Homo sapiens: one gene and its partners. The protein of the gene in region 2 purifies or fractionates together with the protein of the main gene of each other region. This does not show direct contact. Each region holds a gene or a part of one and is shown on either strand. Other genes may lie near its edges.

Region 1 (7,640 bases), on a different chromosome or scaffold from region 2:
CCTTTTAGAGTGGCATGGCTATTGACATAGAAGTAGTGACGTGAGTTTGGTCATGTGGACCAACAGGACTAAGGTAACTCCACCCTTCATACAGACACCCCCACATACTCACTAGTACCCAACCCAGCACTAGTCTTTTTGTAGAACTGTCTTTGAGCCATCCCCAGTCTTAACCCGATCATATGCGTCATTCTCTGTTCTAAGACTTCTAGGCACACATTTTTGTGTTCTCTGGCACATTTGTTATATGCATATGAAGTTGTGTTCATTTTGTTTTGTTCCCTCCCTTTTATCTGGTATGTCAAAATGTATTTGTTCCTGTACCTCCTGTTTTGTTTCTCTGGTTGGATGTGTCTGAAATATATGTGTCATTGGAACATCTTTTTATTAATAGAGGTGTCATCATATAGTTCGAATCTCATTTGAATTAACTTTATATGGTCATTTGATTTCTGTGTTTTATTTTAATTTCATTAAAATGTTGGATGCTTGGGTTTCCAGATGAACATAAATTATAAGTGTTTCCCCAGTGGTTTGTATTATAAAAGTGAAAACCTTTTAGTTGTGTCACAAACTCCTGGGCTCTCTAAGGAATGCATTATAACATTGTCCCTCCCTTCAACATCACCCTCCTAAATTGAAATTCGTCCCTTTGGCAGAAATCTCTCCAAAGGAAAGTAAAATATATCACTTGTGATCTGAGATCCTCTGTTCCCTATCTTTTTGTTTTTCATTCAAATCACTTTTCCTCTCCCTACTGCTGCAGATAGCCGGGATGAGTATATATTCTTTTCAACTATCACTTCTCATTTCATTTCCTACCCAGTATGGTTGGGAAAATCTTAAAATTTCAAAGTAGATTTCAAAGAATAAAAATTTAGACTTTTAAGTATATTGGTATCATATAAGAAAAGCTAGTATCCTAAAACTAAACTTATTAGACAGGACGTATGTTAATATTCCATTTTCCCTAAAATATCATGTTCATATTTTTCCCTAAATTATTTCTTCCTTTTCTAGGAATACACCTGTTGCACACATGATAACAGAACTGTGTTTTCTGATACATTCGATTCTGTATTTACTAGTTGTGTGATATTAGAGTTCTACATGGTTTCATTTTTGTGATAGATTGTAACATAGGCCTTAGGCACTCAGTCTGCTTTCCTTTTTCATTTCTGTATGTTCTCTATTTTAGGTCATGGAGTGGTTCAGTATTTTAATGTAGCATCAGCTATTTATGCAAAATACAAATTACATGGATTTCAGTACCCTCCTGGGAACCGAATAGGTGTTTCCTTCATTGATGATGGAAGTAATGCAACAGAGTAAGTACCATTCCAGGAGTGTCTAAAGCCGAGCTTTGAGTGTACATGATTGATAGGACTTGAAGAATAAAAATAGAAACAATTGACCTCTCAGGTGAGAAAGTCACACAAAACAAGCTACTGTTAAAAGACTGAATATTTTTAGTTTTCTGTAAATTATCAGTTATTTTTTCCAGTCTCCTTAGAAAAATGGCAACACAGATGGTAGCTGCACAGCTTGCATCAATGGTGTGGAATAACCCAAGTCAGCAACAATTTATGGTAAGTAGGTAAGAATTTAACCTTTATAATATATCAATAGCATATAAAATAAATGTGAAGAGAAATCATGCTTTGTTGATTATCTGTGTATGAAAATTTTCAGAGCTATTGTGGAAGACCACATAGATGCCATGATACATATCTGTCTTTAGCTCTTGGCCAAAAATCCCTAAAGGGCATTTTTTTCTTTTTCTTGTTTTCTACCTGTTAACAGCAATTTGGAGGAAGCTCTGGATCACAGTTGCCTCAAATCCAGACAGATGTTGTACTTCCATCATGCAAAAAAAAAGCTCCTGCTGAAACTCCTGTGAAAGAAAGACTTTTTATTGTGTTTAATCCTCATCCTTTACCTTTAGACGTATTAGAAGATATATTCTGGTAAGAAAGTTACATTTTTTGTTATATTTTATTTACACTAGTAATTTAATTATTCTTATAATCTAGACACTTCCTTCACCCAGTACCTATCAAGTAGAGAGTATTAGTTCTCTGCTTTTAAAACCTCCTTATTTGTATCATCTTTTTCAATTTCTGATTATTTTCTTCTCTTGTTTATCAGTCACACATCCTAAGGCTCCATAGAGAATTTCCTGCTATTTTGTTTTTGAAACATAAAGTGGGCCTGGTGCAGTGGCTCATGCCTGTAATCCCAACACTTTGGGAGGCCGAGGTCAGGGGATCGCTTGAGCTCAGGAGTTCAAGACCAGACTGGGCAATATGGCAAAACCCCATCTCTACAAAAAATACAAGAATTAGCCAGGCATGGTGGTACATGCCTGTGGTCGCAGATACTTGGGAGGCTAAGGTGGCAGGATTGCTTTTGCCCAGGAGGTCGAGGTTGCAGTGAGCCAAGATTGTGCTACTGTACTCCAGCCTGGGTGACAGAGTGAGACCCTTTTTGTTTTTTGTGTTTTTTTTGCTAAGCATCTTCTGTTTTGTTGGTGCATTGTAGGATCCTTAAGGGTTATGCAGTCGCATTGTGTAAACAATTACTTGATTGTAGGGAAAAATACATAAATGTTTTTTATAATAAAAAAGGGAAGGTTCTTATTTATTTTTGTGTTTTTAACATAACTCCTTTCTTTGCTTTTTCTTTTAGGCCTTTTTCCCATTTGCCTTACAAGAATGTTAGTGAATTTGATAGACAGGAAGCTTGTTAAAGAGCTGCACAAAATATCAGGGACATAATGTGATAGTATATTGAGGCTCAAAAGGAAAAAAATATCAGGATATGGTTCAAGTATTTTGACCTTTATTTAACTGATATATTTAGTTTTCTTCTTGAACCTCCTCTTTGTTCAAGGCAGGAACTGTGCTAAGTACAAGAGACATGTAAACAAAATATTAAATGGACAAGACATTATGATTCTTGTCCTCTTAGAGCTGATCTCATGTAGGAAACAGACAAGTAAACAGAAAATTACAACCCAGGGTGATTGTTGCTGTGATAAGGAATGTGTAAGATACAAAGGAGGAGCAGTTACCTTAGAAACTCTGAGAAGCCTTGAAAGAAGGAAGGTGTATGTGGAGACCTGAAGTATAAAAATAATTTCTCCACAGGTGAAAGCTGGGGGTATGCATGGTTATTTCTGCCATAGAGAATGTAAAAGAAGGGCTGTTAAATAGGGAATTTGAGAGATTGTTAAGGAAGATGAAACTAAAGAGTCCAAGGACAATGTCAGAACGGCTCTAGAGCTATATTAAGGAATTTGTTGTCACCATGGAGGCAATGGGGAGCTGCTGAGGGGACTTTTAGGGAGTAAATGATCATATTTATGTTTTAGAAAGATCACTCAGAAGACAGAGTGAAAAATGGATTGAAGAGGGACAAGCTCAGGGGTAAGGAAACTAGTGAAAAAGGAGTTAGATTAAGGAAAAGATGATGGTCTGAATGAGAAGAGAGATCTGAATGAGAATGAATAGAATTGACTGAGATGTTTAAGATTGACATGAGTTGGATGTTGGATCTGGGGAGAAGGGTGAAAATGGAGTCAAGAATGGACTCCAAATTTTAGACCTGAGCAGTTGTATTTATCAATTTTGGTTGATTATTTTTTTCACTTTGTTTCAGTCGTTTTGGTAACCTGATCGAAGTTTACCTTGTGTCAGGAAAAAATGTGGGGTATGCCAAGTATGCCGATAGAATAAGTGCTAATGATGCCATTGCCACTCTACATGGAAAGATTCTGAATGGGGTGAGACTTAAAGTTATGCTGGCAGATTCGCCAAGAGAAGAATCTAACAAACGGCAAAGAACTTACTGATTCTTGAGGTAAGCCCTTTTTAATCTGAATTTTAAAACATATTGAGTAAATAGTATATGAGGAATATGTGTAAGTACTTTATAAACTTTTCTTTTTAGTGATTTAGAAGTTGTCAGTTAAAAGAGCTTTGCAACTATTTAAACTTTAAAAATTGTTGACATTTACTGAAGAATGTTTTTGCCCTTCTGTAAAATAAAATCACATTTCAATTTAGAAAGATAAATAATTGTTTTTTGTTTGTGAAATCTTCGATTTTAAGAATTCAACTTTTTATTATGTGCTTATATAAACTTTTAAGTTGTCCGGTGCTAGAATAAGGATTGCTTTAAAAAAAAATTGAAATACTTCTAAAGATTTTTAACTTGAAAAATTGGTGTCTTGAGTTATGAATTGAGGTAATTTATAACAGTCGTTTATAAAGATAATGTTTTGACTTCTCTCTAATGAAATGCCTAAAAAGCAATATCAAATAATATATCATTTTTGGACCTTTTGAACCTAAATGTTGGTGTTTTCTGGACTTGTATTTGTGAGTTTGTGCATTAAAACAATACATTCAGAAAATATTCTCGTATGCATATATGTATTTTTTAAGAAAACCTGACAATTTACCAAAAACTCTTTATTGTAAATTTTGATACATACAGCCATATGAATTCCATTTCCTATTTTATTTATTAGTTTTCAAAAATCAAACTACAATTTATTTGACTGTGACAGTGAGTTTATATCTGTGTGGTTTGGGGAAACATTCCTTAAAGTTTGACTTTTTTTTTCCCCCGAGACGTCTCGGTCTGTCACCCAGGCTGGAGTGCAGTGGCGAGATCTCGATTCACTGCAACCTCCACCTCCTGGATACAAGTGATTCTTCTGCCTCAGCTTCCCCAGTAGCTGGGACTACAGGCGCGTACCACCACGCCTGGCTAATTTTTTGTATTTTTAGTAGAGGCGGGGTTTCACCGTGTTTCGATCTCCTGACCTCATGATCCGCCCGCCTCGGCCTCCCAAAGTGCTGGGATTACAGGCATGAGCCACTGCGCCTGGCCTAAAGTTTGGCGGTTTTTATTCTGTAAAATAATTCTGAATTTCAGGGGAAGCCGTTTTCCTGTTCCCACACACTAACTTTCCAAGTCTACTATAGGTCAAATGTAGTAGATGGCAGGCACTTTGAATTCAGTTTGAAGTTACTGGCTTGAAACCTTTATTTTTTTCACTTAAGATTTTCTTTCTGACCAATTGTGTGAGCTAGCACGTATGAGAATGATTCCTGCCAGGCCTCACTGCTGATGACCCTTCCTCTCCTAGAACAGATCACATGATTAGTTCCTCCTTCATAGCTTCATAGAAGGCATTTGACAAGAGAAAGTGCCCATTGGGCCCATAATCCTAATTTTTAAATCTTTTTAAATGTTTTATTAAATGACAAAACCACTCTCATTGTACCATACATTGTTAGCAATTTAACCCTGGATATATTAAATTGGGAGTGGAAAAGAATTAGCAAGCATTTTTTCCTGTTTATGGATAAAATGTTAAGAATGAATTCTGTTTGGAGAAGCTATTCTCTAGCATGCAAAAAATGTGTTTTTTCTAGTCTGTGAATATTTCAATAATAGGAAATAAATAGTTCTTGCTTTTACTCAATAAATCTTTGTTCTTAAAAAGGACAATAATATAGACTTTAGACTTCTCAGTATAGAAAAGTATATAAATTATTCTTGTGGTTGAACCTTTTCTAATGATTATTTACATGTTAAAGAGAATATTGGGCTTAAAATAAAAAGCCATTTAACTGTGACTGGGCTGGTCTCTACGCCCTTTTTTTTTTTTTTTTTTTTTTTTTTTTAAACACAGAATCTTAGTCTGTCACCCAGGCTGGAGTGCAGTGGCCTGATCTCAGCTTACTGCAGCCTCTGCCTCCTGGGCTCAAGCAGTCCTCACAGCTCAGCCTTGCAAGTAGCTGGGACTACAGGCATGTGCCACCATGCCCAGGTAATTTTTTTTGGTAAGACAGGGTTTTGCCGTGTTGCCCAGGCTGGCCTTGAACTCCTAAGCTCAAGTCATCTGCCTTCCTCGGCCTCCCAAAGTGCTGGGATTACAGGCATGAACCACTGCGACTGACCCTCTTTGCCTTTTTGAGGCCCAGTTTTCTCATAGGGCTTTTGAGAGACAATGAGTCAACAAAATGTAAAATGAAAAAAAGGCTTTGCAAGTCTAAACTAAAACTCTTGCATTTGTAGCTTCAGTGAAACCTTTGAGATGTCCTCTTATCTAAAATAATGACATCCAAATGATCAGAAACTAAAAGTATAATGATATAAAACTACCTTGTGGCCAGTTGGTACTGTGAGAACTAAGCTTTATAAATACCACATTTTTCCCTTAAACTCATCCAATTTCCTACATCAGAGGAATTGCATTTTCAGCATGGCTGTTCATAAAAATTTTAATCTATCATTTTTCCCTTTTTTGAACTGTTACGCATATTCAGGGCAGAGATAAAATAGGGTCAGGTTAGTTGAAAATGGCTGTTTGGATAGGATACGATTAGCTACACGGTTTTGAATTTCTTCTAATTGCAGCATGGCTTTTTTTATTTTTGCTGCGGATCTCCTATTTACAATGGACTCCATTATGAGATTCTTCTTCTTTGTTGGTGTATTAAATAAACATATTACCTTATTTTAAGTTTCGATAAAATACTGTGGAAGACTTTGCCAAATTTTATATGATTGTGACAAGTTTTTTGGGGTAGGTGCACTTTTTTGTTTGTTTCTTTAATTTTTAAAAGGCTGCAAACACAGCTCATGAAGGCTGGTTTCTTTTATCTCTGAGGTATGGGCCTGGGATTAAGTGAGTCATGCCTAGGAAATAGAAGCAACTGATCCAAGGATATAACATTGAAAGTAGTTGAATTCTATTTTGAGATGGGTCTGATAACCACAATGTAATTCTCTTTCTATTTGAGGAAAATATAAATTTTAGTATTTCAGAGCATCAGATTTTTTGTTAATTCACAACACTTTCCCTCTAGAAATTCAGCACCTGCATCGCCCTTCTTAGTAAGTTTGGTTTTATTTGGGGGCAGCTATGATTAAGCAGATAACATTGGGTATATTGAAATAAAGGAACAATTCCTAACATTTTAGGAATACTACAACAGCTATTTCCTTTCCTTTCAGGTGATGATTTTCATACTTGTGTTGTGTTCTTTCTACAGAACAAAGACTAAATAATGACATAATCCTCAGCTGACTGACTGAAAATGTGACTGGACGCATTCCCTGTGGACAGTTGACAGCTTTTTTTTTTTCCATATACCTGATAGTCTGTGTACAGCATTGTTTTGTCTGGGAAGCAGGGATTGCTGACATGTATTTTTGAATCCATACATTAATGCTAAAACGAATATAGTAGTTGTTCCTTAGAGCAATATGTTGTTACGTGTAGCAGAAATAAAGTTTTCTTTGCTTAACTAAATCATGACTTATTTATGTGAAAGACAAGAACGGAAAAATTTAATAGACAGTCTTTAGAATTTGACTAAATGACATATGTCATTGATTTTGAGATGCACATCTTTCACATTTTAACACCCCTGAAAGTAGAAGCATCTCAATATCAGTTGTATGGCATAGTGTAATCGACAACCTTATTTTCTTTCTTAATAAAACATGAAAAGGTGCTTTTTTCAATCAATTGCATCTTAGAGTCAATAAAATATGGTAATTGCTACTCAATCTATATATGCAGCTTAACTGTTTACACTTAATCTAAGGACAAAAGA
Region 2 (7,640 bases):
AAATTTATTTTATTCCTAATATCACTGTTAGCCCAACTGAAATGGGAAGACTAAAATGTTCATTAAAACTCTTGAATGTAAGGGAGTTGTTCTGCCAAATCTTAGTTAACAAAGCTATAGCAATATAGATTTGATTATGAATTTTAAAAATAAAATACAGATACAATTTTCTATTATAAAAGCAATACTTGGCCAGGCACAGTGGCTCATGCCTATAATCCAAGCACTTTGGGAGGCCAAGGAGGGCGGATCACCTGAGGCTGGGAGTTCAAGACCAGCGTGACCAACATAGAGAAGCCCCATCTCTACTAAAAATACAAAATTAGCTGGGTGTGATGGCGCATGCCTGTAATCCCAGGTACTCAGGAGGCTGAGGCAGGAGAATCACTTGAACCCCAGAGGCGGAGGTCACGGTGAGCTGAGATCATGCCATTGCACTCCAGCCTGGGCAATGGGCAACAAGAGCAAAACTCCATTTCAAAAAATAAGTAAAAAATAAAATGAAAGCAATACTTGTTCTTTAGGAAACAGTTAAAAAATAGAGAAACATTGTGAGGAGGAAATATTAGCTGTAGTACCATAGACTGAAGCAGCCACATGAAGATTTGTGAGGTTGTTTTTGTTTGTTTTTTTAAGGTAGCTTTTCTCCTCACTGTTTGTTTCTCTCCCCGCCACCCGTATAATAATAATACCTTGGAGGCATGTTGTATATTACAATGTCTAATTCTTTTAAAGCAGTGACTTCAGAAGAAAATTGAGCCAGATTTTTCATTCATCAAGTGAAGATCCATTTAGTTGATCTGAATCTAATCAGAGGAGCCCATATTACCTGCCTCTGTGTTGTTAATTGGCTTCATAGGAAGCACCACCTTTAGAGTTCTGAGTAGAGAGAGCTAGCACTACATGCATGCCTGGGAGAATAGCCTACAGATTTTGCTGTCATGAGACTATTTAGTCAAGTGAGAGTATATAAAATACAGCCTCCTTAATTGTGTTAGTTAATTCATAATACTTATACATTGCCACCCTGTGTTGTTATCACATAGACTAATAATGGTGTTAAATAGAAATCCAGGCCTAGAAATAAAGATGAATTTGTTCAAAGCAACAAAAATATTTTTTATTTCATTTGTGCTTTCTAATTCATTCATTCTGAGATCTTGTGAATTGAGAGTAGGTTTCACCTATGACACAAAGTGCGTCTCATCTTTTACCTGCTAGTCCATCACAGGTGGACCTAGCTTGTTTTAGTCAGCGGTTCTCAAGTATGTCCCGCACCTGCAGTATCAGCAGTCTTCTGGAACCCTGCTAAAAATGCAAATTATTGGGCTTCATTCAGAACCTACTGAATAAATCTCTGAGGGTGAGCCACAGGTTGTTCTTAGGTATGCTTAAGTAGGAGGACCACCGATTTAGGTGACTCTAGCTGTGTAGAGGCTGTTTTTTTTTTTTTTTTTTTTTTTTTTTTTTGCTAATCTGATGCTTTTCTAATGGAACAGCTAAATTCTAGAGGTTATTAATTCTTAATAGGCGCTAGTAGATAAGTGAAAGGATTTGCTATCATTTCACTATTTATTCTTCATACTTAAGGCTTTCAAAGTGAACTTACTCAATTTACCTGAAATGAAAAATGAAACCCTGCAATTTTCTTATTCAGCCATCAGGTGGTAATAATGTGCAATGCATGCTCTTTAAATAGAAAAGGTAAAGTGATAGGGGCTGTCTTAGATACGCATATGTGGAAAAAATGCTTTGTCTACATTAGAAAATTCTTAGTCATTGACCTTACACAGTATTAATTTTAAAGCAAGTAGACCTTCTTTCTTTTTTTTTTTTTAAGCTCCTCCAAGTATGATGGTCCAGTGCTCATTTACTTGCCAAAAAAAATTTCCCTGCCACTGCTTATCTCATGATGACCAGCTGTGGTCACCCCACTAGCCTGTTCACGCTAATTAAATGGAATAAGCTGGGTTTCCCTCTACAATTTTTCATAACCTGGAAAGGTTCTTGGCTATCCTTTCCCATTTGTGTCTTTCACACTGGGGAGAATGTGGGGCAGGGAGTGATCTTCTGTAGTCAGGAGTGATGCTGCTGAGGTCAGAAAGCTTTGATGCTTTACTTCTAGAAATTTATTTATTTTTAAAATCTACGTCTTTTCTTTTTCTCCATATAATATTTTTCTGTAATAAAATATAGCTAGTCAGAAGCACAAGAGAGCTTCAGAGAACTGGAAGAGCATTTTCAGGCATTTTTTTCCTAAAGGACCTATATCCTATGCAATATTATTAAGCTGAATATATTATTTAAAATTTCAACCGAAATGTCTTTCTACCACAGTGTATGTATTTTTAGCATAGCTTTGTAGCATTTTTAGCAAATTCTTCTTTCTGTTCTCCTTGTTTCAAGGACAGGAACTACTGTGTCCCTCATTTCTGAGCTGCTTATCCAATAGCACAAATTGAAAAATGGAACTCCGGTACACTATTGACATTAAAAGAGTGTACGGGAGGGAGGTGGGAGAGAGAGAAAACATGGACATGCTTGTGTTTTCTTGTCTTAGCTGATTGGAATGCATGTGATAATGGGTACTCAGATTATGTAAGTGACACGAATTTTTCTAAAAATGCAAAATTGTGATTCTAAACTGAATGGCTAGTAAGTAAAGGGGAAAGTTTCCTCCTGGTGTGATTTTGTGGGAAATGTTATATGTAGGTGAAAACATGTTCTTGAGAAGGAAAAATTAATGTGTCCTTTCTTCTCTCCTTCCCTTCTCCTTCTGTTCCCTCTTTTCCAAATCTTTACTCAAATCTACCATAGGCATATCAAGGGGTGTAGGGTTTATTCGATTTGACAAGCGAATTGAGGCAGAAGAAGCTATCAAAGGCCTAAATGGCCAGAAACCTCCCGGTGCCACGGAGCCAATCACTGTAAAGTTTGCTAATAACCCAAGCCAAAAAACCAATCAGGCCATCCTTTCCCAGCTGTACCAGTCTCCAAACAGAAGGTATCCAGGACCGCTAGCTCAGCAGGCACAGCGTTTTAGGTAAGTCTGGTTTGGTTCTTGTGCCCAGCTACTAAACTGAAAGAGAATACTCAGGTTTACTGTCCAGTACTTTTATTGACAGGATCTCTGGTTTGCTTTTGTCAGTGTTGTTGGTTTTATTACTATTAATTTTTCATCTCCATGGGCACAGAGAGAATCTACTTGAGGAATAGTGTCTTTTGCTAATATTGAAGGTGGGGACCAAAGGACAGTAACCTACAGCAGTGATTCTTAACCAAGGGTGATTTTTGCCTCCCAGGGAACATTTGGCAATGTCTAGAGGTATTCATGTTGGCACAACCTGTGGGGGTGCTACTAGCATGTAATGCTAGAGGTCGGGGATGCTGCTAAGCTCCTACAGTGTACAGCATAGCCCCAGCAACCAGAAGTTACCTGGTCCAAAGCACCAATAATGCTGTGGTTGAGAAATTCTAATCTGTAGCTTTCTGGGGTTATCTGAATTGTTTCCAGGGCTTCAGATTTCCTTTTTTTTTTTTCTTAAAGGATTTTATTCTCATGTGTCAATTTTTAGGTCAAGCTGTTTCTGTTACTTCACTTTATAGTATGTGCACCATTAAGGGTATATAACCTATGTGACTACGTGAAGTTTCTACAAATGAGTTCCTCTCTTCCTTTTCAAAATTGTTTACAAACAGGTTGGCAGACTTTCTCTGTACAGTACCAGATAGTAAATATTTAACTTTATGGGTTATGGTCACTGTTGCATCTGTCTTGTTTTTGTTTTTAAACAACCTGTTAAAAATGTAAAAGCCATTCTTAGCTTATAGCCCATACAGCAACAGGTGGGAGGCAGTCTCCATTTGGCCTGTCGGTTGTAATTTACTGACCTCTCTGTAGTTCATAGAATGACCGTGGCTTTAGCCCAAAGAAGACACTCTATCTCACTGACAGGTGTACATATGCTAACTGTTTAAGTTTTATTCTGATCCTGGGATAACAAACCAGGAGTCATTCAAAAAATCTCTAATCTGCATGTGAGAAGAACAGTGACTTTAAGAAGTTAAGCAGAGCAGAGAGTTTTTGGTTTCATAAGCAAGTCATGCAGTTTTTATTTTCCAGGACATTTTTAAATATCCTTTTTGGCCATATGGTACACTATACCCAGAATGCTATCTAACCCCACACTGATTTTTAAAAATTATTTCCAAGTGCATATCAATTTTATTTATTTCATTCATGGGACAGAATAGTTAATTACCAAAAATATAATCACAAATATAACCTAATAAGATCAGGAGTTATGTTTTCTAGCTTAAATCTATGCATTTATTTTTTTCATTGGAATATTTGCAGTGCTGAAGAGAGTGGAGATAAAATCAGTTAAAAATAGCTCCTTTTAAAAAAATACTAAATTATGTTGCTTGAGATATGAGAAGGAAATTTGTTATGAATGCCACATTAAATTTCAACTTAAGTTGGCCTTTGCCGTGGGAGAAGAGGTGGTACTGTCAAAAGCATTGAGCCTTGTACTTCATGCTCTGCTGTGAGGAAAAGGCATTGGTATTAAAAAAAAAAAAAAAAAAAAAAAAAAAAAAAAAAAAAAAACCTTTGCCACCTTTGACTTCCCATGGTAGTGGTGATCAGACTAGTGTGGGAGATGCGTGGGGCTGCCTGATGCTTGCCTTTGTGGAGAAAGAAGTCTCACAAAGAAAGCCCTTTTTCAGCTCTGCACATAGGTTTCCTCTGTGACATCTTAAGTGAATAATATATGTATAAATATACTTTTTTAAATTGCAAACGTAGGATGAACAAGCCTGAAGGAATTTTACAGGTATTTCCTAGGCAGCTTGTCCAGTTAATTTCAGAGCTCTTTGGGGCCTTGAAAATGATCTCGAGTTTAGATAGAACAAAGTTCTTCATAATGTATTGGTTGATTTTTAACATTGTGAAGTTATAAAATGTTTGCTGTTAGTGGAAAGCTATATTAGCTACTTTTTTTTTCCAGATTGAAGCAATGATTTTGTTTGATAGTTATTAAGTAAAACAAAGTTCTTGGAATCAAGATTGAATTCTTAGGAAGATTGAGAAGACAGGATTTGGGAGAGTGCCTGATTATTGAAATGGCAAGGCTTGTAGGTGACTCAGGTGCTAGGTTGTTGATGGGTGTCAGCCCTTAGGTTTACCTAGCCTCCATCCCTGCAGGCTCTGTGCTTTTTATTTTTGGTTGAGTAAAGCTTTACAGGATGTTCTTATGGTCAAATTTAATTATCTTTTTCTGGCCCATTCTGTGTTTTTATCTTTTAGTACCATATGTTATCATTAACTTGAAAATTCTTTTTCCTTCACTCCTATAGAAAGACATTTTGGAAGAAGAGAATAAGAGATTGTCAGTTGTAAGGGAAACTTGGTTTCAGAAAATGGGAGAAATTGTTATTCTCTCTTCAGATTTTTAACTGTTGTCCCATTCACCCCATTTCTCATTCCTCCCATGATCCCTGTCCAGATAATAAAATATGAACGAGTTAGTGTGCTCAGAGATAGTGTTTGATCTAGATTGGGTGTGTTGGAAGAAATCAGATTTCAGGTTTAACCTGATGTTTGATGCTTTTCTTTAATACAGTATATTGAACCTGGTTGTCATTATCTTGATTTCCGCCCCACTCCCCCTTCTTCTTTCACCTGATAAAGAAACTTGAATTAAGGGCTTGCTTGTTTTGTTGGTATTTTGCTGTTTTCTGTAGTTCGAGTCTAAATCATCACACAGATATATTTTGTCCCTGATATTTGTGTTTTAATGCTCTTGCCTTGAGTTTTTGTCACCTTTCAGCAGACATGTAGAAAATTTCTCACTGTATTTTTATGTTCTCATAGTACCTTGGGAGTTGAGAGAGATTGAGCAATATAAGTTATATGTATTATGGTCAAGAATACTTTTAATAATCATAAAGTATGAGCCATATCTTTTATGGTCAAAAAGCTTAAAAATCCATGTAATAAGGGTTAAGTTTAAAGGTGGGTTTGTGAGGTTTATGGCTTAGTCAATCTATGAATAATCAGAGAATTGTTGTAATATGAGCACTGCTGGTCTAATACGCTTATTTAATTGACTGCAGTTTTCAAAATAGGACAAGCCTTATTTATTTGGATGGATGGTGTAATTCAAGCCCCTTAAGTATATTCTTGGGACATGATATCAGAATTAAACTTTAAGCCAAATTTTTTCATGTTCTTTTCTGTGAAACAGCTATAATTTTATTGAATATGATCTAGTGTAATGACCTGTGTGCCTGCTTCTATGAGCCTTTATGCATTTTTTAAAAAGCCTTTTAAATGAGCACTTGAGTTGCCTTTAAGGCATGACGTACTGGTTGCATTATCACAATTTCCTTTTGGAAGAAACCGGTATCAATCCCCTTGAATACTTTTCCTCTTTCTTAGAGGACAGATGATACCATCTAATTGAATAAGGCAGTAAGGCAGTAAGAAGATGATCTTGTTGTAGATAATTTCCAAGCAGTTCTCGGTTGGCGCTTTGGAGAGATTTTGATAATCATTATTTGTGGGATTCCGAGTATATTTTCTTACCCATCAATAACTTATCTTCCTATTTTTATTTCTGACTTTAATCGGGTTCACATTTCCCCTTACTTACATGTAGGCCTTCCCATAGTCCATCAGCTAATTTTTTTAGAAATTAGGCAGGTACTTTATTTTTATTTTCTACTTATGAACACCTAGCTTTAAAATAGGAATGATCTGATACATGGTTCTGTTCAAAATTTTGACAGGTTATAATTGGAGCTTTGGTCCTGTTGATAGAAAAATGTTTATACACATCTCTCTCCTATGTGCCTTTTTCATAAATTACATATGTACATGGGCGTGTGCTATTCATTAAATTATAAACTCTAATCAAACATAAAAAAGGATAAAGATGAGACAATCTGTATTAAATGTCTTGCTAATTACTATACTGGTTGGCTTCATTTTCCATGTACCTAATATCTTAATAAATGTCTTTTAAAGCAAGACCATAAAATAATTTCAGATATCTCATCTGACTTCATGTGATGCATGTTGGATTATCTTGTGTCTAACCTTATAATGTAGCTTGTACTAAGAGTAGGAGAAATAATCGGCTCTCCCTTTCCTTATTTACTTGTATTTCCCTTACTGGTACCATTCTTTACTCTGATTTACATTTGTAGTAATCTTTTTTTAAGTTACTTTTTCTTTAAATGGAGGTCATTTTAATTAAAGCAGGTTATCCAGTCTAATCCTCCATATCTGCTTGCTGTGTTATTTGTAAAATGGATTTTGTTCAGGCTAAAGAGCAGGAGAGAGTGCCACTCGCCGCCTCTCCCCTTCGATGATTGCTCAGTCTTCCCCCAGGGAGGCAGGTGATACACAGGACTGAGAAGGTACTGGGTTCAGTGCATCTATTAAATATAAGTAAAAAATACTTTATTTTAAATACATATTTATTTTATATTTTATTTTAAATATATATTTAATGGATACTTTAATATTTACCTTCCATATGTACTACGTTATCATCCACACCCCTCCCTGAGATATTCTGGAGGCAGCTAGCTTGCTCTCCATTTAAAAATTGACTTCCATTTATAAATGACCA
Region 3 (7,766 bases), on a different chromosome or scaffold from region 2:
GGGCAGGGAAACGAAGATGTGACTCCAGCTGCTGAGCATGGCGCAAATCCAGAACCTCCGGGCGCTGGACGCTGGGGGAAGGGAAGGGACCGTGCGGGCACCATGCGGTCAGCCAAGGGGCGGGCTCCACCCACGGACGCAGAACTGCTTTCCACCCTTCCTCAGCGTTACCTCCCTCTTTCTTCCTTGGGGGTTGGGGCTGGGGGCGAGCTGTTAAAGGGCAGGAAAAACGAGAGCGAGCAGAGGGGAACACAGTCCCACCCCTCAACCTCAACAAAACCAACGAGGGAGCAAAGGGTTATTTTCGCGCCACAAAAGATGGAAATCCAGGGGCGGCTCCGGGGCCAATGAATGAAAACCAGCAAACCGCTCTGGCGGAGGCGGCCGACGGCGATAGGTTCCCCCCGTCAGCCAATCGGAAGCGAGGAGAGGCCCCCGCCCGCAGCAGGGGCGGTGTCTCTCTCGACGCCGGTTGCTCAACTTGGACTCGGCAAGCCGGCCCCGGGGAGCGCGGGAGCCCCGCCTTGGAGCCGCTTTTGCGCGCCAGTCTCGCGGCCCGCCCCGCAGACCCGCAGGGTTCGGCGAGGGATTCTCCCCCGTGGGTACCAAGCATCCCTGGGCCCTATGGAACCCCTCGTGCACACACGCAACTGAGACCAGAGGTGCGGGAGGGTCGCCAAACACACGCTGCCCGGTGCGTCCCCGCGCTGGCCGGCGGACTCAGGTGGGGTGGCGCGGCGACGGCCCGGCCACACGCTCCGCGCATACGGACGCAGCCCCAGGAGGAGCCAGAAGCCCGCGGTCCCGCGGCAGGGCCCCGGGGAAGGGCGGTCCAGTGGTCCAGGCCCTCCGAGGCGAGCCGGCGGCCGACGAAAGACCCTCCCCACTGTGAGCCGTGAGGATCCCGCCCTCTTTCTCGGGGCAGAGCCAGAGGAAAAAGGAAACAACCCCATCTTCTCTCCCGGGGCACCATTTTTATTTATTTTAAACAATAAAATATAGGCAGGCAGCTTCCAAGGAGGGCAGATCCAGGTTATCACTTATTAACGCCTCTAGTTTAAACAGATCAGAGTCCAGGAGGGCCGTTCAAAAGCGCAAGAGCCTGTTAAAGCACCTCCGAGGAGGCCCAGGCGACACGCCGGGCATTGTGTGCCCACCCGCGTGAGGGGTTTCGGCTTGAGACTCCAGGCTGGTCCCAAGCCGGGCGTGAGGAGGGGTGGCAGCCCCCCATCTGCCCACTCAGCCTTTGCCCCTGACGTGTGGGTACAGCAACGGTAACTGGCCTTCTAAACATAGCTATTCTTTAATATTACACTGACCCACAAGAAACATTTGTACAGTCCTCAGTTCAGCAGATAAGGAGGAGATGCAGCTGTCCAAAGAGTAAACAGACTGCAATTGGAAAGACTCAGCCGCATCCCAGAGCACATAAAATGGTGGGAGTTCTTTCTTCGTGGAGTTCACATTAATTAGGAGCTACAACTGCTTCAGGAAGAAGCTGAAGTAGCCTATAACCAGTTGATTTGTGTGAGAGTCATTAAAAAAAAAAAACTGGAACTTAAATTGATTTTATATTCATTCTTGAAAATTCACCAAAGGTATCTTTGTACTTGAAGTGCTAGTGCAAGACAACTACCTAAGATCTTTTGACTCAACCCTTAAATGCTTGGAAGACTGGAAGTGGAGTGGACTGTATCCACCTCTCTCTTTGATGTCTGAGCTTGTATTACTCATGTATGTTTTTAAGGTCCTAGATGGACTATCCAGTTTGTTACAATAATACACAGATTAGGTTAACAGGAGTCCCAGGAACATATTTCATCAAAACACACACTTGTTTTAAATTCCAGCTGTTAGATTTGTTTGATAGTGCCAGACAAGCATGGACTAGTATTTATGGAAAATAAACAATTTATTCCATGCTTTAGAAGTAGATATTTCCTTAGGTCTCAGTTTTAATAAGAGCAAATACAGTCAACCCAGAAGCCATAGTTGAATTGATTTTGGAAGCAAGCTGAACACACACAATTTGTTTTTATGAAAAATTACTAAAAGTGTTAAATGATCAACAGGTTGTAAAATTTACAGTGGTATTGAGAAGTGCAAATATTACCAAATGAATGAATGTAGAACATTTCTCCAAATGGCTTTTGTTCTACAACAGGTACATTTAAAATAAATCCATAATTTTTGATATTTACATTTTGCATACCACAGAGGCCAAAAGAAAGAATACATTTCTTCTTTAGAACTAAAGTTATTTTTAAAAAAAGAAAAAAATGCTTTTAAAAAGTTCAACCTAACCATAAACTTAAAGAAAAATTTTACCAAAACGTTCTTTCAAGGCTGAGCTCTTAATTCAGTTACAAATACTGTAACAGAAAAACACGTCTGTCCCCCTATTTTATAAAGTAACAACATTTTATTAAATTAAACGTGAATGAAATTATTGTGAAAGTGTGTTTACGTTTAAAATGTTGGATTCGCTTGGCAGGAAAGAAAAACCTGTAAGAAAGAACAGTTGCATTTAAAATGGATGATCTGACACCTTCCGGTTCCTTAACACAAAATTACAAAGTAAGTTCCCTTTAAAAGACAAAATGTAAATACTCTTTATATCATGCAACAATTCCCATGTTTAAGTCTACCATTCATCTTTTAAATGAAAAATACACATTTTAAAATGCTAACAACGGTTTTGACAGAGAAGCAAGGCTGTATCAATTACCGAAGATGTTTCCAGTGTAAATCATAATATTTCCTCTATTCAGGATACCTTTTTTCTACCAGTAAGAGTACCAAGTCATTAAAGATTCTTGTCTATATTTTCATGTTATATAGAATTTCTTTCACTTAAAAAATTAGAATTTTCTATCTTTTCAATAGAATACCTGTTAAAAATATACCTGTTAAAAACACACAAGTATCTGGTGCAAATGAAACCTTTGAGTGGAGTACACAATCTTTAAACGACAGTTGGAGATTCCACTAGAACCCCAGCACTGCCTTCGTTTCCGTATTGCTCGTCTCCAGTTCACATTTTGTTGGCCCACAAGGCTCCACCGGGCCCAAATCCTCCCCCGACAACCACCATTGTACTCATTACATATAGAGAAAATTATGTATGGCTCTCATGGCCAAATCCAGGCAGAAAAGAGGCAGAAAGAGACTCGAACAATTTTTCAAATGCGAATACCACCTAGGGGTAATGCACGACGGTCTTCCAGTTTTAAGTCTCAAGTTCTCCAACTAAAATTACTTAAATAAAAGTACCAGCCTACTCCACTCCTCCCCCTTTAAAAACTACAGGAAGAGAGGGTTTCCCTTTACCGACTTTTCCCACTTTGACTTCTCTCCTCCAGCGGCCCAGGCCCCCGACGACCCCAGCCCCTAGCCAGAAACCTCCGCCCCTGCACTCCCCTCCCCCACCAGTGGCCAAGCCCGCCCCCGGCCTCATTTATCCTGGAGCCTTTTCTGAATCGCGCAACCAATGGCAAACGCGAAGCCGAGAGCCACCGCGAGCGCAGGCGGAGGCGGAGGAGGTGTCGCCCAGACACCCGCCCAGGACGCTGCGGGATCCCATCCCCCACCACTCCGGGGCCGGGCCGCCCCCACTCGCGCGGTGCCCAGGGCCCGAGAAGGGCGCACGGGGTGGGGCGCGTCGCCCGCCTGTCTTGCCCCCACCCCCTGCCCCCCTCACCCACTCCCCCACCCCTCCTCGCAGCATTTCCGTCCATGCCAGCCTTAGAAACGTGCCTGCGGCTTTGCTGGGGTTACACTTCTAATGCCATTAAAGCCACCAGGCGAGTTCGGGATTGTGACTCTGGTTTTGTTGTTAATAACCTATTTTGAAAAATCGAATGATTAAAACTACGGTAACTAGCGCTGAGGAACTGCCTGTTAGTACCTCTGCCCATTTCCTCATTAAAAAAAAAAAAATCAATATTCCAGCCCTCCCTCCCAGGATCCGCCCAGACCAGATAACCCTTTACAAACTCGAGTTGTGACCGTCAGCGCCCCGCTTGGTGCCGGCTGCGGTTCCTTTAGCATTTTCCTTCTTCCTCCTCCCCCTTCTCAGAGTCCCTCTCCCAATCTCGTTTCCCCTCCCCCTCTTCCTCTCGCTCGCTTTTTTCTCCGAAACCCACTCTAATTGAGGCTCTGGGATTCCTCACGTGAGACGTTGATTTGTAGTTTGAACACGTGGCTCATTCAAAAAGCCGGACACTCGGAGCGGATTTTTTCCGCCTCCTGCGCCTTCCTCCCTCCTCCTCCTCCTCCTCTCCCCTCCCTCCTGCCAGTCACCCTTCTGGGTTTTTTATGGGGAGGCGGCGCCTGCCTCACGTAGTGTGATATTTTCACAGTCCGCTGGCCGAAGCCAAAGGGGTTGGGAAGGAAGAGACAAAAAGTAGTTTTTTCCCCTCCTCCTCCTCCTTTCTCTTGCTAATCCCGCCTCCTCCTAAGACTTAGGAAGACTGGTGGATGCGTTTGGGTTGTAGCTAGGCTTTTTCTTTTCTTTCTCTTTTAAAACACATCTAGACAAGGAAAAAACAAGCCTCGGATCTGATTTTTCACTCCTCGTTCTTGTGCTTGGTTCTTACTGTGTTTGTGTATTTTAAAGGCGAGAAGACGAGGGGAACAAAACCAGCTGGATCCATCCATCACCGTGGGTGGTTTTAATTTTTCGTTTTTTCTCGTTATTTTTTTTTAAACAACCACTCTTCACAATGAACAAACTGTATATCGGAAACCTCAGCGAGAACGCCGCCCCCTCGGACCTAGAAAGTATCTTCAAGGACGCCAAGATCCCGGTGTCGGGACCCTTCCTGGTGAAGACTGGCTACGCGTTCGTGGACTGCCCGGACGAGAGCTGGGCCCTCAAGGCCATCGAGGCGCTTTCAGGTGGGCCCGGGCCTGGCCCCACCCGGGCTCTCGCCCCAGCCCTGCACCGCCCGCCCAGGCCCACCGGGTGGCTCCGCGGGCCCCAGGCCCGGCGCGCTGGGGGAGCGGGGGTGAGGCCTGAGCGCCCACACCCACGCGCGTGGGGGCCGGGGCTCTCCTCAGCTCCGGCTCCCACTCCGGCCCGCGGCTCTGCTTCCCCGGCCGGGGTTTGCTGGGTGAGGGCGAACGCGCTGTCAAGAAAGCCCCGGCGCTGGCTAAGGGGGGCGCGGGGCTGGGGGAGGCGCGCTCCCCCGGCGCCCCGCCCGGGCCCAGGCGCGTGCTCCAGGCCCCGGCACGCTGGGCCTCGGGGGCCGAGCTAGAATGCCCGCCTGTGCCTCGTTCCTTCCTGCTTTCCTCGGTCGTTATTTACGGCGCTGTCTGTGCTGCGCCCCGAAACCCCCGGCCGTGGAGAACGGAAAGTGGCCTCGACCGTGCTGCCGAGTGAGACCGCGAGGCTGGTGCCTCGCACAGGCGGCCCCGCGCTTCCTCCCCACCCTGTGGGAGGAGAGAGTGTGTGCCCGGTTTCCCCGTTCCACCTCCCCTGGTCCGACGAGCGATAGGGGCAGGTGGGCGGGGGCGGCTGGTCGCCTGGAAGGGAGTCGCCGCCACGCACCGGCCGCCCGCCGCTCTCCGGGCCCTGGCGCGGGGCTGCGGCCTCCGGGTATGGCTCCGCCAGGGCGAGGGACGGTGCCGGGCGGAGCAGGACGCCCAGGGGGAAGGCTGCGTTGGGGTCCCCATGGGAGCCCCGTGCCTTTCGGCTTCCCTTTTAATCAATTCAGACGTGGTGCGGGCGCCTCGCCGTCCTTCGCGCCTGGTTCAGCCTGTGCCGAGCTGCGCCTCTGCCAGTTCTCCCGTTCGTGGTCTCCCCTGCCGTCCCCGACCCTTTCTCGCCACTCCCTGTCTTCCTCAAGCCCACCGCTGAGTGTTCCCGGCGGGTCTGGGCTGAAGCAGAGGGCAGGGCCAGGGCGCCCCCTCCTGAAGAAAGCCAGGGGAGCCCCCTGCCCCGAGTCTGCCCTGTGGAGCGTGTCCAGGGCGGTGAGAGGGTGGGCCGCGTCCCTCTTGCGGGCCTCGTGGTGTTGGTGGCCCCCAGGGGTGGGTGGGGGAGGCTTGGAGACTGGACTGATACCCAAGTAGTGGGCCCGCCAGCGGACCCTGCTCCCCAACCATCTGCGAGTTAAATGCCCACGCCGCTCGAGGGGGTCGGCTTCTCCCTCCGCCTGGAGCCGCGTCCGGGCCTCGGGGGCCCTTCGAGGGCCTCAGGAGGCCATTTGTGTCGCCGCTTGGGCTGTGCGGGTCTTCGGGCAGGGAGAGCCGCTGAACTCGGCCGACCGTCTCACTTCTTGTGTGTCCGCAGGTAAAATAGAACTGCACGGGAAACCCATAGAAGTTGAGCACTCGGTCCCAAAAAGGCAAAGGTGAGCTGCTGCTTCTGTTTGCCCCGATTCTGTTCTCACTCCGTTATTGGGTGGAGAGACTCAGCTGAGAACTTCTTGTCCTCTGGTGCTTACCCCCTGCCGTGTGGCGTGGTGTTCCGGTCTTTAATCCTTGCTTTTAAGTTTATGGCGGGGGTGTGTGTGTTGATGATGCTGGGCAGGAATTGAAAGCTTTTCTGTGGCCTCTGCCGCGGGATTATGGTTATTGGTTACAAAATCTCTCGAAAGCTCACAGCTGAATGTCCTCGGTCCGAGCGGGTCAAATTGCTCCTACGGGAAATGGGTCCCAACAAGCAGTTTGGGGGGTTTGCAGGGCTTGGGAAGCAGCGGATGATTCCCCCACCCCTCCAGGAGCAGGAGAGGCGAAAGCAGCTGCGGACACGCGGGGGTCCCTCCTTTCCTTCTCTGTCCGGGGTTGGGAGGCCGTGGGCGCGGCCGAGTGGAGAGGAATTTGCCTCTGCCCTGTGAGCTCGCCAGGGGTATTGGAACGCGTGCGTAAACGCTGGGGCCTCTCTGGCCCAGAAGTGCCTTTGAGTCACTCCGAAGTTCTACAGGTTCCTGCAGTCAGCACCTTTGTCTCCCCGCTTTCCACCCCACTCCTCCTGGGTACATTTTTGCTTACAACCACCAAAAGATGAAGACAGGAAGATTCGTACTACTTAAGGACGGGGATTTCTCGTCTCCGAGATCATGTGTGTAGTATGTCGCTTTACAGAATGTTTATAGACTGTTTTAGCCTCTGAAGCATTTTGGAGACATGGCTCTTTCCCTTTTTCTTTTTCTTATGAAGCCTTATGGAGCAGTGGAGACTCCTTTCCTTTCGCTAGAGCAGGCCGGATTCCGGCTCTATTTTTTTGTTTTGTTTTGTTTTTTAAAACCTTCAGCCAACTCACACCATAGATTCCGGCTCTAACTGCAATTGGAAAGGCACTGCTCCCTCCCAGTCGCACCGGGGTGGGCCTCTAAGCCTTTCTGGATTTTGCATGGTGGGGTTAGGGTTTCTGCCTGCCCCTCTCCCATCCCCCCAACTCCCAACCTGAGCCAAATAATAAGCTGAAAGTTAATTTAAATCAGGGCTGCGTGTATCTGGTTAGATATTGGTGAGAGAGTGTGTGCTGGAGAGCAGGAGGGTTTGCTATGCATTTCTCTGGTGCTGTGCAGAAATAGATGGCTACAAAACATCTCATCTGTATGCCTGTGTAGATTTCAGCTCTCTTCCCAGGCAAAGCATTTTCACAAATCTTGTTTTTAAGGATGAGTTGGTTTGGATTTTTCTTGTTCTCATACTTAAATTTCATTAAGATAATTGAAAGGGATTTGAGTGACCTGATAGATTTAGTTCTAGTTGGGAATTTTGGTAGGGGTCACATGATTTTCATATAAATTGAGCTTGGT
Region 4 (7,640 bases), on a different chromosome or scaffold from region 2:
AGAAAGAGGATGCTTAGCTGGCTTTACGCATGAGACAGGTCCCTTCAGAAGAGGTGAGGTTGATTTGGGGGTTGCTAGATAGTGAAGGGAACTCATGGAGTCTTTAAGTGGATGGCTTCTGGTTACTTTGTGAGGTTGAAGATGAGGGTCTGTTGGGGGATGGAGGTGTGGACCTTGAGAGAGAAGGTGTGGAAAGTCCAAGAAGGGAATATAGTCCCTTTGGGGTAGAGGTCCTGTTGGGACAAGTCTTCTAGTATTTGATTAGATGAATCGTTTGAGAGGGGGCCCACACAGAAATCCATGGTCTGACAAAGGGCACAGATCTTGTGGCATTATCTTGGTGAGGTCTGGCCACGACTCTGAGTTCTCTGAGCTTCTTGCTAATTCTTGGACAGTTCTTGCAAGGGTTCTAAGTGGGGGTGATGACACGGTGGCAGATAAGGAGACACTGAGTAGCCAGTCGTTTGAACCACAGTGGTGTGGGGTGAGGGCATGGGATTTCTGCACATTCTTGGGGCCTAGGTCTTGTGTCCCTCTGCCAGCTGCAGTCCCTGTGGCTGCGTCTGTGTGTCTGAGATGTTGTGAGCACAGTGGGGTTTAGCTGTGGCTGTGACGCTCACTAAACTGTGAGCTCTGGCATTGGCTTTGGGATGTCGGAGAGTGCACGTTTAGGCAGCATTCCTGTCACTGGTCCTCACTAGTAATAACAAAGATCCTTGATGATGATGGTTTCCAATACACGAGCCAGGTACAAGGCTAGGGGCTTCACATCTGTTATCTCTCTTTATTTTATAACTCTGCAGCCTGGTATTTCACATTTGCAGATGGGGAGACCGAGGCTCAGAGAGGTGAAGTGACCCTCTTGGCAGTCACACAGTGGGTGGTGGAGCTGGCCTTGGAACCTGGACCTGTTTTGTCACCCGAGGCCCTGCTCCTTCCAGAGCTCTGCATCCTTCTGAGGTTCCTTACCCTGGTCCCCTCCACAAACTCATTTTCACCTAAAAAAGGAGATAATCATGGCTTGCTTGTGGTTGTGAGGGGCTCAGATTGCCTGGGAGCTGGGCCTGTGGTCACTCTGTATCCATGTGTACTTGTGTGTCTGTGTTTGTATGCATGCAGGTCGTGTACAACGTGGGACTCTGCATTTGTCTGTTTGATATCACCAAACTGGAGGATGCCTATGTATTCCCTGGGGATGGCGCATCACACACCAAAGGTGGGTATCTTCTGTCCCTGGGGCATTGGGCTTCTTGGGGCTCAGTTTTCTGTAGCCAAAGGTCAAGCCAAATCCAGGTTCAGTGGTGCGTGCCTGTAAGGCTGAGGGCGGAAGGATCTCTTGAGCCACAGAGTTCAAGGCCAGCCTGGGCAACATAGCAAGACCCTGTCTTTAAATACATAAATAAAATATGAAAAAATTTTAAAAGGCTAAAGTCAAAGAGATGGCCAGAGGGTGGTGGGAGTCCTGGAGGCTGGGAGACGTGGGGCCTCATCCTGAATCGGCCAGGAATTGACCCGGTGACAGCGGCAGACTTCTCTTCTCTGGGCCTCTGTTCCCTCATCTGTGAGGCCTGGGATGTGGACTAGTTGGTTTTCAAGGCCTCTTCAGCTCTGACTTCATAGCTCTGTGTCTGTGCCCTTTTGGTCTCATTGCTACTGAGCCCTGCACCTTGTCCATTCCTCGGGCTTCCCGCTGCCTGTGGAGAGCAGACGGAAGGGGGATCAGCAGGCTGGCTGGGGGTGGGGGACTTGGATAGTAGGACACAGTAGGTAAGAGTGTGGCCTCAAGATTAAAAGCTGAGCTCTGCTTCTTACTAGCTGTGTGTCCTGGCTGAATATGTCATTGCTCTGTGCCTCTGCTTCCTTATCTGTCAGTTGCAGTTCAGGATGTCAACTGCAGTTTAGGATAGATTTTATATTCTAAGACCATTGTGAGGATTAAGGAGTTAATACATGAAAGCTCTTAGGACAGAGCCTTGGCACCTAACGAGCACTCAGTGACTTATCAGCGTGGATTGTTTCTCCCTATTCTGTCGGTCAGTTGGGTGGTTTTCCTCTCATCTGGCTGGCCTGGGGCTGGACAATCTAGGACGGTCTCACATTCTGAAGGTTGGCAGACTGGTTGGTTACTGGGGGCCTGGGCTGGGCTGGCCCATCTCTGCCCCACATGGTCTCATCTTTCAGTAGGCCAGGCTGGGCTTGGCGGTTTTAAGGTTCCAAAGTTCAGTGCGTAAGTACTTCTCAAGCCTCTGCTTCCATCCCGTTGGCTAGGGTGAGGGGATGGAGAAATAGACTTCACCTCTGGGTGGGAGAAACTGCAGTCACATTGCAAAAGGGTGTGCATCCAGGAATGGAAGGTGATCACCAGATCCTGGAAGGAGGGAGGAGTAGAGAGAGGACCACCCTGAGAGGAGCCAGGACCACCAGTCAAGGGAGGTGATGAGCCCCAGGAGAGGGGCATTCTTCATTCTCATGTCTGGACCAAACCAGTGTATAGGAGATGGTGAGAGGCCCATTGAGACGGTTCAGGCTCCCAGAGCGCAGGCGCCAAGCCTGCCATCCCTTGGGCACTCAGAGCGCAATTCTCAGCCTGCCCCAGGCCTCCCTCCGCCTGAGTCAGAATCTTGGGGGATGGGTCCAAATACTTTTTTTTTTTTTTAAGACAGAGTCTTGCTCTGTTGCCCAGGTTGGAGTGCAGAAGTGTGATCTTGGCTCACTGCAACCTCCACCTCCCAGCATCAAGCAATTCTCCTGCCTCAGCCTCCCGAGTAGCTGGGATTATAGGCACGTGCCACCACGCCTGGCTAATTTTTGTATTTTTAGTAGAGGGGGTTTCACCATGTTGGTCAGAATGGTCTCGAACGCCTGACCTCGTGATCCGCCCACCTCGGCCTCCCAAAGTGCTGGGATTACAGGCGTGAGCCACTGCCCCCAGCCCCAAAGACTGTTTTAACAAGGTACCAGGTGGTTGTCACACGAGCTCATGTTGGATAAGCCCTGCTGTAGTCCATACTGGTCAGCCTCTCAGCACAGAGATGCCAGAACATTCCAGAGTATGCTGTGAGACTGCCTAGTGTCTGTGTCCAGCCATTCAGGGAATTAATTAGTTCGCATGGATGTTACCATGGTACGCCGAGAGGCCGAAGAAACAGGCTGTCTTTGTACAGACTAGGAGCATTTTCATTAGCAGAGAAATAAGATTGCAGTGTGAAAACAACCACGAGGGCCTCTGTTTACAGAGAAGGATGCCGAGCTGAGCCCAGTCTCCGCATTTGGACAGGGGCCTTGGTTGTCCAGGAGACAAGTGGTAATAGGTACTAGAACTTCCAGAAAAACTTGGAGAAAAAAGTCAAGTTGCGGCCGGGTGTGGTGGCTCACGCTTGTAATCCCAGAACTTTGGGAGGTAAAGGCGGGTGCATCACCTGAGGTCAGGAGTTCTAGACCAGCCTGGCCAACATGGCAAAACCTCATCTCTACTAAAACTACAAAAAAAGCCAGGCACGATGGCTCACTTCTGTAATCCCAGCACTTTGGGAGGCCGAGGCGGGCAGATCATGAGGTCAGGAGATCTCCTGGCTAACACGGTGAAACCCTGTCTCTACTAAAAATACAAAACATTAGCCAGGTGTGGCGGCAGGCACCTGTAGTCCCAGCTACTCAGGAGGCTGAGGCAGGAGAATGGAGTGAACCCAGGAGGCGGAGCTTGCAGTGAACCGAGATCGCACCACTGCACTCCAGCCTGGGCAACAGAGTGAAACTCCGTCTCAAAAAAAAAAAAAAAAAAATTATTTGGGTGTGGTGGCACATGTCTGTAATCCCAGCTACTCCGGAGGCTGAGGCAGGAGAATCGCTTGAACCCAGGAGGCAGAGGTTGCAGTGAGCTGAGATTGTGCCACTGCACTCCACCCTAGGCGACAGGGTGAGACTGTATCTCAAAAAAAAAAAAAAAAAATTAGCCAGGTCTGGTGGTGTACACACCTGTAATCTCAGCTCCCTGGGAGGTGGAGGTGGAGGCAGGAGAATCGCTTGAACCCAGGAGGCCAAGAACACGCCGCTGCACTCCAGCTGGGTGACAGAGAGAGACCCCGTCTCAAAAAAAAAAAGTTGGAGGAAATTCTGTCTATTCAATTGGAAGATTTCTACTGCTGGCTTTTATTAGCCCCCACCCTCATCTGTCCTGAGTCTCTGTTTTCTTGGGAACCAGGTGGGAGGCATGGAGTGATCACAAGGACCTAGATTTGAATTAATTCTGGCTCTGGTCTCCTGGATGGGGACCTTGGGCGGGTACCTCTGCTTCTCTCGGCCTTGGTTTCCTCCTCTGTACAATGGGGTTAACCCTGCAGCTATAAAAGTCCTGTTGAGCACCATGCAGGGTGAACTGTGATTTTGTGGTGGGAACCAATTGCCATGCTTTGAGGCTGATGCCTGACCCCAGGCCCTGTTCCCACTGCTCCCTCTCCTGCAACCCCACAGCCTCACTCAGGGCTGTCACTGAGCCAGTGCTGAAGGGCTCAGCACCAGGTCATGCTGTGCCTTCACCTTTGCTCAGAGGAATATTTATTTGCCTGGGCCTTGGGAGCAGTTGCTTGACCTCTCTGAAACTCGGTTTCCCTATCTGTGCACACAGTATAATAACAGTAATAGAGCCTTCCTCCTTCATCAAATATCTGTGAGGAGTCAACGAGCAAGTCTGAGTGAAGCTGTGGTCTAGCGCCCCGCACGTGGGGAGTGCTCACAGATGATGGCCTTTGTGGCATGGGACCCTGACCCCCACTGGCCAAGTTTATCCCTCGACATTTGGTGCCAGCCCGTGTTCCCCACATCCTCCAAGCCTGGGACCTGCTGTACCCTGCCCCCGCCTGCCCCATACTGATCGGGGGCCCTGCTCTCAGTCTAGAGCAGCGCTCCTTTGTGACCACCTTTAGTTATTTATTTTTTAACATTTTTAAATGTTATATTGATTTGCAAATCGGGCAGCCTCCTCAGCTAGAGTTGGTGCAGAGACACCCCCCACCTTTTTTTTTTTAAAGCCTTTTTTTTTTTTTTTTTTTGAGACAGAGTCTTCTCTGTCACCCAGGCTGGAGTGCAGTGGCACCATCTTGGCTCACTGCAACCTCTCTGCCTCCCGGGTTGAAGCCATTCTCCTGTCTCAGCTTCCCGAGTAGCTGAGATTACAGGTGCCCACCACCACGCCTGGCTAATTTTTGTATTTTTAGTAGAAATGGGGTTTTGCCATGTTGGCCAGAATAGTCTTGAACTCCTGACCTCAGGCGATCCGCCCGCCTTGGCCTCCCAAAGTGCTGGGATTATAGGCATGAGCCACTGCGCCTGGCCTTTTTTTTTTTTTTAAACCTTTTTTGACATGTTTATCATTTATTTCATTTTTTTCTATTGTGGTAAAATATACATAACATGAAATTTACCAATTTAAACATTTTAAGTGTGTAAGTCAGTGGCATTAGGCACATTCATATTCTTATGCAACCTTCACCGCCATCCACCTCCAGAACTTTCATTTTTTTTAAGATGGAGTCTCGCTCTGTCGCCCAGGCTGGAGTGCAGTGGCGTGATCTCGGCTCACTGCAAGCTCCGCCGCCCGGGTTCACGCCATTCTCCTGCCTCAGCCTCCCGAGTAGCTGGGACTACAGGTGCCCGCCACCACGCCCGGCTAATTTTTTTTTGTATCTTTAGTTGAGACGGGGTTTCATCATGTTAGCCAGGATGGTCTCGATCTCCTGACCTCGTGATCCGCCCGCCTTGGGCTCCCAAAGTGCTGGGATTACAGGCGTGAGCCACCGCGCCCGGCCCACCTCCAGAACTTTTTCACGGGGCAGATATGGTGGCTCATGCCTGTAGTCCCAGCACTTTGGGAGTCTGAGGCGGGCGGATCACGAGGTCAGGAGTTCGAGACCAGCCTGGGCAACATGCTAAAACCCTGTCTCTAAAAAATGCAAGAGTTTTACTCTGTCGCCCACGCTGCAGTGCAGTGGTGCAGTCTCGGCTCACTGCAACCTCTGCCTCCCGGGTTCAAGCAATTCTGCCTCAGCCTCCCGAGTAGCTGGGATTACAGGCATGCACCACCATGCTCGGCTAATTTTGTATTTTTAGTAGAGATGGGGTTTCTCCATGTTGATCAGGCTTGTCCTGAACTCCCGACCTCAGGGGATCATCCTGCCTTGGCCTCCCAAAGTGCTGGGATTACAGGCGTGAGCCACAGCGCCCGGCCTGCTCAGCTAATAATTTTTGTATTTTTAGTAGAGACTGGGTTTTGCCATGTTGGCCAGGCTGGTCTCAAACTCCTGGCTTCAAGTGATCCGCCCGCCTCGGCCTCCCAAAGTTCTGGGATTACAGGCGTGAGCCACTGCGCCCAGCTTCCTTCCTCTTCTTGATGGTCCTTTAGACTCATCCTTTCTGACTTTCCAGGCATCCCCTCTGCAGGCTACACATCCCTAGACCTCCAGGTGGGGCTCTTGTGAGATGAACTGCAGATCCAGCACTCTCCTGGCTGACCAGCCTGTTGCTCTGTGTCCTTCTGTTTTTTCACTGAGATATAATTCACATACCACAAAATTCACCCTTTCAAAGCATACAATTTAGTGGCTTTGTATATTAAGAGTTGTGCAACCATCACCACTATCTTTTTTTTTTAATTACATTATCACCATTTTGCAACTCCTTATGAAGACAGATCTCATCAATGATCATTAACTTTTTAGCTTCCCCCAAAGAGAGACAAACAAGCATTATATAGTTCCTGGTGGAAGAACTCAACACCGATTATGAGGCAGTTCTGTTGCTAAACGCTAGGAGTTGAATCTGTTAAAAATTCTAGATGCAAGTTCCAGTTTGGAGGAACTATAGGAATGGAGGAATACAGTGACTGGCACCACAGGCCTCCAGGGGTTATGGTAAGTAGGCAGATATGAGCAGGGCAGGAGAGGGCCCCCTCCCACCAGGAACAACACCCTCATCAGCTAAGCCATCACCACTATCTAATTCCACAATTTTTTTTTTTTTTTTTTTTTGACAGAGTTTCACTCTTGTTGCCCAGGCTGGAGTGCAATGGCGCAGTCTCAGCTCACTGTAACCTCTGCCTCCTGGTTTCAAGCAATTCTCATGCCTCAGCCTCCCAAGTAGCTGGGATTATAGGCACCCAATACCACGCCTGGCTAATTTTTGTATTTTTTTAGTAGAGACGGGGTTTCACTATGTCGGCCAGGATGGTCTTGAACTGCTGACCTCAGGTGATCCGCCCGCCTCGACCTCCCAAAGTGCTGGGATTACAGACTTGAGCCACCGTGCGCGGGGCCATTCCACAGCGTTTTTATCACCCTACAAAGAAACCCCGCCCAGTAGCAGTCACTGCTAATCCTGTCCTTCACCCAGCCTCTGGCAGCCACTTAACTGCTTTCTGTCTCTATGGATGTGGTTCTGGACACTGTACATGAATGGAGTCGCACACTGTGTGGCTTTTGTGTCTGGCTGCTTTCACTTGGCCCCATGTGAAGGTTCAGCCCGAGGTTGAGCCACACTGTAGTGCATGTCAGAATTCCTTCCTTTGTAAGGCTGCATAATATTCCATTGTGTGTCTCCAGCATGTTTTGTTTACTCATCCATCCATGGGGGACTCCGGGTGCCCAGCA

Evidence for each region.
Region 1: the proteins of ELAVL2 (region 2) and RBM45 purify together in Homo sapiens (co-immunoprecipitation; 3 studies listed by BioGRID and IntAct, with this or other methods). This does not show direct contact.
Region 3: the proteins of ELAVL2 (region 2) and IGF2BP3 purify together in Homo sapiens (co-immunoprecipitation; 3 studies listed by BioGRID and IntAct, with this or other methods). This does not show direct contact.
Region 4: the proteins of ELAVL2 (region 2) and POLR3H purify together in Homo sapiens (co-immunoprecipitation; 3 studies listed by BioGRID and IntAct, with this or other methods). This does not show direct contact.

What each region holds. Positions count from the first base shown.
Region 1 is NC_000002.12:178,122,324-178,129,963, forward strand, and holds the end of RBM45 (RNA-binding protein 45), read left to right. Parts: intron 1-1,198; coding exon 1,199-1,328; intron 1,329-1,504; coding exon 1,505-1,589; intron 1,590-1,803; coding exon 1,804-1,967; intron 1,968-3,660; coding exon 3,661-3,853; 3' UTR 3,854-3,861; intron 3,862-7,035; exon of another isoform or gene 7,036-7,073; 3' UTR 7,074-7,333; downstream 7,334-7,640. UniProt on the Homo sapiens protein: RNA-binding protein with binding specificity for poly(C). May play an important role in neural development.
Region 2 is NC_000009.12:23,696,782-23,704,421, reverse strand, and holds part of ELAVL2 (ELAV-like protein 2), read left to right. Parts: intron 1-2,817; coding exon 2,818-3,043; intron 3,044-7,640.
Region 3 is NC_000007.14:23,467,069-23,474,834, reverse strand, and holds the start of IGF2BP3 (insulin-like growth factor 2 mRNA-binding protein 3), read left to right. Parts: upstream 1-4,343; 5' UTR 4,344-4,724; coding exon 4,725-4,899; intron 4,900-5,187; exon of another isoform or gene 5,188-5,259; coding exon of another isoform or gene 5,260-5,599; intron 5,600-6,292; coding exon 6,293-6,353; intron 6,354-7,766. UniProt on the Homo sapiens protein: RNA-binding factor that may recruit target transcripts to cytoplasmic protein-RNA complexes (mRNPs). This transcript 'caging' into mRNPs allows mRNA transport and transient storage.
Region 4 is NC_000022.11:41,534,275-41,541,914, reverse strand, and holds part of POLR3H (DNA-directed RNA polymerase III subunit RPC8), read left to right. Parts: intron 1-1,119; coding exon 1,120-1,216; intron 1,217-7,640.